3 separate regions of the Homo sapiens genome follow, and regions 1 and 2 are each linked to region 3. The links come from fine-mapping of genetic effects on gene expression. A gene starts in region 3. Each other region holds a variant in brackets. All regions are shown on one strand. Distances are from middle to middle.

What was found. PIP is the estimated chance that this variant, and not a neighbour inherited with it, causes the effect. A credible set is the group of variants that fine-mapping cannot tell apart.
Region 1: its variant is the best candidate, but not a certain one, in a credible set for the expression of MCMBP in whole blood (TOPMed, PIP 0.53).
Region 2: its variant is the best candidate, but not a certain one, in a credible set for the expression of MCMBP in tibial nerve (GTEx, PIP 0.65).

The regions. Positions count from the first base shown.
Region 1 is chr10:119,979,928-119,982,689 of GRCh38, reverse strand. No RefSeq gene overlaps it. Among named protein-coding and RNA genes, the nearest start is that of MIR4682, 23 kb to the right of the region's middle. The variant T/G (reference allele first, on the strand shown) is at 1,523.
Region 2 is chr10:119,829,579-119,832,340 of GRCh38, reverse strand. It overlaps MCMBP (minichromosome maintenance complex binding protein), which reads left to right. Exons shown (of 16, transcript NM_001256378.2): 15 at 241-329; 16 at 741-2,762. The coding sequence ends at 867. Among named protein-coding and RNA genes, the nearest start is that of MCMBP, 42 kb to the left of the region's middle. The variant G/AACAG (reference allele first, on the strand shown) is at 1,440.
Region 3 is chr10:119,871,788-119,874,549 of GRCh38, reverse strand. MCMBP (minichromosome maintenance complex binding protein) reads left to right here and starts at 1,707. Exons shown (of 16, transcript NM_001256378.2): 1 at 1,707-2,023. The coding sequence starts at 1,966. RefSeq lists enhancers at 1,178-1,347, 1,213-1,372 and a silencer at 1,603-2,252.

The DNA.
Region 1 (2,762 bases), 110 kb before region 3:
ATGGGTTCTGATTTATTAATCTTAAGGAGAACTTCACAAGCTAGGTACTATTCCCCCCACCTCCATTTCACACGTAAGAAATATAAGACTCTGGCTGGGCATGGTGGCTCACACCTGTAATCCTGGCACTTTGGGAGGCCAAGGCAGGCTGATCACTTGAGGTCAGGAGTTCGAGACTTGACGTCAGGAGTTCGAGACCAGGCTGGCCAACATGGTGAAACCCCATCTCTACTAAAAATACAAAAATTAGCCAGGCATGGTGGCATGCGCCTCCAATCCCATCTATTTGGGAGGCTGAGGCAGAAGAATTGCTTGAACCCAGGAGACAGAAGTTGCAGTGAGCAACAGAGTGAGACTCCGTATCAAAAAAGAAAACAAAACAAAACAAAAACCAGAAATATGAGACTCAAAGAGGTTAAATATATTTTCTGAGTTCGCACAGTAAATAGGTGGTAGAGCCAGGATTCAAGCACAGGCAGCTTGACTCCTGAGCCTACACTGTCATATGAAATGACTTGTCCTATAAAAATGAAACCTAAAGTACAGCCAAGGATAAAAAGGGGAAACTAAGATCAACAAAGGTGAGCAGGATGCTGTTCTCCTCCTCCAGAGGCTTACTGTTGTCCATGAAAGGAATTCAGTCAGGGACCCTGCTGAGTCATCTGCATTTGTTTCCTAGCTGGGCACTGATGCCAACTCGCTGGGCAAACTGGGACAAATTGGTAAACATTTCTAGGGCTCTAAGAGAGAAGGAACAGGAGAGAGATGAGAACTCAACAATATTTTAAGTTCTTTCCAACTTTAAGAATCCTGTGATTCTACATACAGCCCTACCTAAATAGCTGCAATCAAAATATTCTCCAAGTGAGAATATATGACATTCTTAATTGCAGAAGACTCGATAAATTACAAGCCTTTTTAAGAATGAAAGTTCTTCTTTCAGGCAGTGCTAAAGAGAATGAAAACAAAAAACTCGTTTCCAAGAGCTTTAACCTTGAGTTCTTCTGAAAGATTTCCAAAAAAGTTCTCTTTCTGGACCTATGGCCAGTCTAAAGTCTTCCATACACAGTTAGGAATATTTGGCTTCAAGAATGTTGAGCTCATTTATATTACGTTTCAAAGGGACTTTCTTTGTGCCAAGTCATGGTGAAAACCGTGAAGAGAAATGCCTTTCAAACCTTATGGGACTTAAATGTCTCTAAGAACATCTTCAACTTAAACCTAGCCTAGTCAACAGCACAGACCTTAAAAAGCAGTACATATCATAGTAATTCATTACTGTGAAATAATGCCAGTATTTGCTTCACAATGGGACTCACTAGTTTTTCTTTTAAATAAACTCTTTTGTAGCATCATAAATGGAATTTTGTGGATAAACAGTGGAGTCCTAAATAGGGAAGAGGAGTCAGGCTGGTGGGAGCAGGGGAAAGCAAAAAAGAAAAAGCAGATAAGCTGTAAGTCTGCCTTTCTTCATGGTCCAGGACACAATCTTCCTGTGTCTAGCTGTCACCAGATCCTCAGC[T/G]GATACAAAAATGCAAGCTAGCTCACTGCAACCTTGGCGTTACCAGTAGTGCACAAAGCCCTCTTCAGCACACGGCCCAGGCACCATTCTATAAAATTCCCAGCAAGCCTTTGTCTCCTTACAGTCAGCTCCTCTCATGTTGACTTGCCTGTTGCTTTCTTGCAACATATTTTTCTTTACTACAACACCTTTTTAATGCATGGATGTATTTTCATACTTTTTCTAATAAATCTGCCTTTCTTTAACTGCAACTGTCTTGTTAAATTCTTCCACCACCCACACCATTGGCCCAGAGAGTTGCCACTTACCCACGACATACACCATTATCTTTACACAACCTTTCAGACATAAAATAATAATAGCTAATATTTATTCAGTACTTACTGAGGTGATAGTTCCTTGATGTGTTTTGATGTATTAATCTTAAGGAGAACTTCACAAGCTAAGTACTGTTTTCCCCCATTTTACATGTAAGAAATACAAGATTCGAAGAGGTTAAATAAGTTTTCTGAGTTCACACAAAAAATAGGTGGTGGAGTTAGTGTTCAAGCACTGACAGTCTGACTCCTGAGCCTACACTATTACATAAAACAAGGTGCCCTGTAGAAATGAAACCTAAAGTACAGCAGAGGACAAAAGGGAAGCTAGAATCAACAGCTGATTTGGCATCCTCTTCAGGATCGTCAAGATGTAAAATAATTTGGATTATCTATGTTGACATTTCAGGTCCATCTAATCCAAGTCTGATTGAAATTTTATAAAGTTAAGAAATAGTATCACCCCAACAGACTCAAATGGACTCCATTAATTCACAGTTTCCCATGTTTCAGTTATTTCTCCACCATCTGCATGATTTTTTCCATATTCATGTATCACCCGAACTATTATTTACCTAATAATCTGATTTAAATCATCTACTTTATTTCAAAAGGAGTACATAAAATCTTTGAACTCACTGGTTTTGGGTGCTAGTTATATTTTTAAAACTATCTTTAAAATAAATACATAGTCACTTAAATTTTTAAAACTATTCATGTATTCTCTAAGATTTTATTTATTATACTTATAGCAATGTATACCACAGTTGGGACATGCTGAAATTGAAAACGTGTGGCTTCTAGAACTATGGTAGAATTAAGAGATGTCAGCCAGAAAGTCTTCATTGGAAGCCAATAGGAGTCTAGTCTAGTATGTATGAGAATGTCTTTACCAATAGAGACAAATGCAAGGAAAGTTCAAC
Region 2 (2,762 bases), 42 kb after region 3:
AAGCATTGTTTCCTATGCCAGTTGCTGATTTATATGTTTGCTTGACCTTAAATGAATCTGAGTTTCATTATTTTATTTTCATCAGCAGCATTATGTATGTATATGCTTTGGTACTTTCACCCATATTGCCTCCTTTGTCTAAGAGGCTGACATGCACCTTACTACATCAGTCAAGGAACCATGTTAATTTTCTTTTCCTTACAAAAATGCACATCATTTACATTTACTCTTTTGATAAAGGCAGTTGAAGATGACTTTGTGGAAATGCGGAAGAACGACCCTCAGAGCATCACTGCTGATGATCTTCACCAGCTGCTCGTGGTGGCTCGGTAAGTGGCGCACGTCCATTATTGCTGTTTCGGTAAGCTTGTGTATATGTCTTCTGAGTTATTCAGCAGTAACTGAGGCAGAATTCTAAAAACGGAAATGAACTTTTCCTTTTAAAAACGCTGTATGAAAGGGCTCATTGAGGGGGAATCGAGTTTGGCTGGTGATCTCTTCAGTGGAACAGGCATGCTGCTTGTTCTCTAAGCTTCAAAGAGTGAGCCACTTTCCAATTCTGACTCTTCAACGATTTCTTTTTAGAAGCCTAACTTGGCTGTTGACTTGTGTGTAACTACCATACGGTCTTGTCTCCTAACGTGCTCTGTGTTTTCACAAAGTATTCCTAGGTCTTAAAAAAAATTTAAAACTTACTATCCCAGCTCTAGACTTAAATTTGTTTCTGTGTTTCAAACCAGGTGTCTGTCTCTCAGTGCTGGTCAGACAACGCTGTCAAGAGAACGATGGCTGAGAGCAAAGCAGCTAGAGTCTTTAAGAAGAACGAGGCTTCAGCAGCAAAAATGTGTGAATGGAAATGAACTTTAAAGATGTAATACCTATGAAGAGTAATGGGCAAACTGTAGCCACATAATTGTAAAATTCAGATATTCATTTATACCACATTGTTTTATAGGTAATTTCTATCACAAACCAGTGACATTTCCTGAAATCAAGCCTGGTAACACCTGATGTTTATATGATATTCAGTAAGGACTTTTACCTTACTGATTTCATGGAGCTTTTGAAGTTTGTTTTATAATAATTATATAAATTAGTAATGATGTAAAAAAAGTATTTGATATTAAAAGTTTAATATTGATAATGTTGCTGATTGTACCATTTCCTTAGCTTCAGCTGAGTCATAGGCCAGACTGTTGAAATGCTGAAATGAAGAAGGTTGTTGCAGTTTCAAAGTCAGAGGAATCGTGCTTCGGATTTCTTATGTTTTCTAGTTCTCTGTTTTTCCAGTTCACAGTGGGTTGGGGTGCATTCAGTAGTCCATCTTTGGGGAACGGAGGCGTACTTGCCATTGATTCACATGACTACATGAAATTCTGTACTGTCATTTCCCAGATGTTTGGCCACAGAAACTTTTTCCCACTTAACATTTGTTAACA[G/AACAG]CCTGCAAAACTAAACTTGTACATGGCAGTGGTTCCCAGACTTTTGTATTTTATGGACCGGTAGTAATATTTCCAAAAATCTGGGGTACTATAAGGTTGCCAATTTACCTTGCCAAGTAATCCGAATAAATCACTGTATTATCACCATTTTTTTCATAAAAGGAAAGGACAATCTATCTCTGAATAAGAGGAGTCCTTTAAACGGAATGAATGTGGCTTTTGGGGGCAAAAGAAACCAAGACACTACATTGTCTTTATTTTCTCCTATCCCAGTGCATTTGAGAACCATGCATAAGGGAATGCTGTGCTACAAAGCTGTGCCCAAATATGAAAACAAAATAGGAAACTTAAAAAGCAATACCCCCTTTAGAAAGTTTTTATTTTCTTAAATGTCATTGAGTTGCTTTGATTCTATTGGATTTTTGGCATTTTTTATGGGATCATCAGTTGGTTCCAAGTATGTTAGATCAGCTAACATCTGCTACTCCAGTAACAGCCTCGTACAACTGCAGGTAGGTTTTCTCCAGACCAATTAGTTTTAATAGAGCAAACTAACAACAGACTGTAGTAGCATGGTTATGGCAACCAGAATCTTCAGAAAGGTTAGGACATTACTTTTTAAGCTGTCAGTGGTATCAAATAACTTACCTAGTTGGAGGCAGATAAAGGATCCCTTACGTTTTTTCCTATAAGGCCTAAATTGAAATTGTTAACCAAGGAAACAGGGTCAGCCTTGAAAAATCAAGGAATTCATTGTACCTAATAACTGAAGTAAAAATAACTAGTTGTTCAACTTTTCCTAAACTCAAATCTATTTTTATAAACAAATGTAAATAATGTTTATATTAGAGTTGAACTGGTTTTCATTTTTATAACTGGTAGACTAGACCTTCCTTAAACTTTTAGAAATAAAATGAAGGCTTCACTGGATTTGTGAGGATAAAATACATTTTCTTTAATTGTCCTAGAGCAAAGTACATTAGTCACCATGTGTTTTTTGTGCCAATGTAAATTGTAATTTACCAAAGAAAAATACATACATTGCTTGGTCTTGCAGAAAAGTTCCCTTGAAAGAACCTTTCCAATAAATAAAACGTCCCAAATTAGCAGTACCTTGGGCTGTTTTTCATGAGTAAGAAGATTCACCATCCCATGTGATCTGTGTGGAAAAAGACCATGTCCTCTTGGTGGAAGACATGAGAGAGCTGAACTGAAGTGGAGGAGGTGGTGCAAGAGGGACCTTCCTGCTCAAGGCCCGCCCAGGCAGCGGAATGGAGTGCAGTGCTTGGCTGCAGAAACCCTTTGTCCCTCACCTATATATAC
Region 3 (2,762 bases):
TTGTATTTTTAGTAGAGATGGGGATTCACCATGTTGGCCAGGATGGTCTCCATTTCTTGACCTCATGATCCGCCCGCCTTGGCCTCCCAGAGTATTGGGATTACAGGAGTGAGGCTCCACGCTGGGCCTCAACTAATGATATTTTCAATTTACAATGGGTTTATTGGGATGTAACTCCATCCTAAGTAGAGTAAGTAGAGGAGCATCTGTACAAAACAAGCTCCCTACCCTTCCACTATGTACCTAAGAGCAGGACATACATTTTCAAAGGTGTCCCACCTCCTCTTTCTACCAGGGACAAAAGTTAGTCACCAGAGACAACTTTAGACCCTTATCAGCCAGCGATGGCGCTAGAAGAACCTACATAACACACTTTACTCACTACCTGTAACTACCATTAGTTTCTCGTATCTCTGCCTTCCCACTCTGCTGTTTTTGGAAACTTCAAACTGCTTTCGCCATTTCTCCCCAGTTATTGTTCTTTATTGTAAATGCTACGTAATTCCCCCATTCTAAGCCACCTGTTTGAGTTACTCTTCCTTGAGTTTTGCCCATATAAGATGTACATGTTACTAAATTTTTCTTTTGCCAATCCGAGCTTTGTGATAAGGGCCGCAGTGGAGAACCTAGAAAGGTAGAAAGATTTTCCCCCCTTCCTACAGCCCCAAGGAGGGTTTGAGACACGGGTTCCGTTTTTTTCCTTCAGCTCCTCACTTTGTAGATTCCATTCAGGTCATTCCCCTTCCGTCACCATGCCCTTTTTTCATTGAGTAGATATATCTGATGGGCCTGGGGTTTTCTTAGGTACATTTCAGGCCCAGGGGAGACACAGTTTCATTCTTTTTTTCTTTTTTATCGGACAGCCTCCTGAACCAGAAGAGGTTCAGAGCGACTCCCACAGTTTCACTCTTGAACTTGGGTATTTTCCAAATTGCCTCAGCAAAAGGCTGCTGTAGTCGGTCTTCGTAGCTTCCTTCTCCAGGGTATCCTAGCGGCGCGCAGTGCAGGAGCCTCGCACCGCTCCCCGACGGCGGCTGCCAGCTTCCAGACAGACGCCGACCCGGTGTTCGCAACCAGGGCGCAGGCCGGGCCCGGAGCGTTTAGAGCGCCCGCCCCTCGGTAAGGAACCGTCCCTGAGCCACAGGGCCTGACGCGACTGCAGAAGGAGCGTGGGGTCCTCCGAGGTTCCCCTTCTCTAAATGTGCACCTTCCTCAGGGAGACCTTGTGCAGCTGAGGGAAAAGTCACCACTCAGGGTTTCGGGCCGGGGACCCAAATAAAAGTGCTGCCATCAGCAAAAAAAGAAAAAAAAGGCACGAAGAGGAGGTGGGCGGATTCCCAAGGCGGTTTCGCCCACTAATTTTGCCCAGAGATGACTCTGAGGTCTCTGAGCTTAATGCTTTTCAGCTGTTGTGCAGACTCGCTTTGCCCTCTTATAAGCCCACTATGGGAGTTCCCGCTACACGCCGGCCCAGGGGTACAAACGACAACGCGCCGCCCTTGGAGCGCGTCGCCGGGCCCCGCGCTGCGCAGCCTCCAGCGGCGCTGCGTGCCCTTCCTTTTGCCCGTCTCCAAGATGGCGGCGCCGCCGCCGCCCCTCCTCCTCGCCGCGCAGAGCCGCGCTGCGCCGCGCGCTCCCGCCGCCCCTCCCCACGCGAGCTCCACCCAGGTCGCAGGCAGCGCGGTCGGCGGCGGCTATTTCCCGCCATTGTGCGAAGTGAAGGCTAGGGGCCCGTACGCGCCCGCCTGACTGTCGCCAGCAGCTCCTCGGCGGCCCCACCGCAGCCGCCGCTCCCTGAGGCGCGGGAGGCCCGCGCCCCGCGGCTCGCTGTGCGTGGGAGGGCGCGAGCGAACGCGGGCGAGGAGCGGCCGAGCCGCTGAAGAGGAGCTGGGCGCCGGCCGCCCGGCCGCGCTCGGCCCGCGGATCGCCTCCGCCCGGTCTTCGCCGGCCCCGGCCCCTGGCGAGATGCCGTGTGGGGAGGATTGGCTCAGCCACCCGCTGGGAATCGTGCAGGGATTCTTCGGTGAGTGGCGGCGCCGGGGGGCGGGCCGGGCGGGCAGCCGAGTTTGCCGGGCCCCGGGGCAGGGCCCCGCCGCGCGGCCCCCACGCGGTACCATCTCGAGGGCTCGCGTGGCCCGAGACGGGGCCCCGGGGCCTGCACCGGCCCCAGCTGGGACAGCCTCTCCCCCGGTCGCAGCAGGCAGGGGCAGGAGCCGGGCCGCAGGTACCTCCCACCTGCCCGAGTCGCAGCTTGGGAGCCGCCAAGGTGAAGTCGTGGGGCGCGGGCTGTGATTCGCGGGCTGTGATTGACGGCCTCGCTCCCAGCCTGTGGCAGGGCCAGGGCCCCGGCCCCGGGCGCAGCAAACTCGGAGGTCCTCGAACCCTGGGGAGGGCCCGCAGAGCCGCGGGGAGGGAAAACCACTTTGCCTGTGGGAAGCCCACAGGATATTTCAAAACTTCCGGTGCGTCGGGGAGTGCTCGCTTGCACAGAAGTTGGTTCTAACTCCTGTGCTACCCTCATTCTCTCTTTCAGAGATAAGATTTAATGTTCATAGCTTAGTTTTCCTGTTGGGATGACTTTAGAACCCATCTAGTCTGGATCTGCTCCTGTGCCAGAGCCAGCAAGAAATATTGAGCTACTTGAGTTTGTACACAGGGCTGAGAATCCTGCAGGCGAGCTTAGTAAATTTTGGTTGCGATTGCTGTTGCTACTTTACTGCGAAGGGTATACGAAGAAAAGTTTATATTTGTTGTCGTTAACT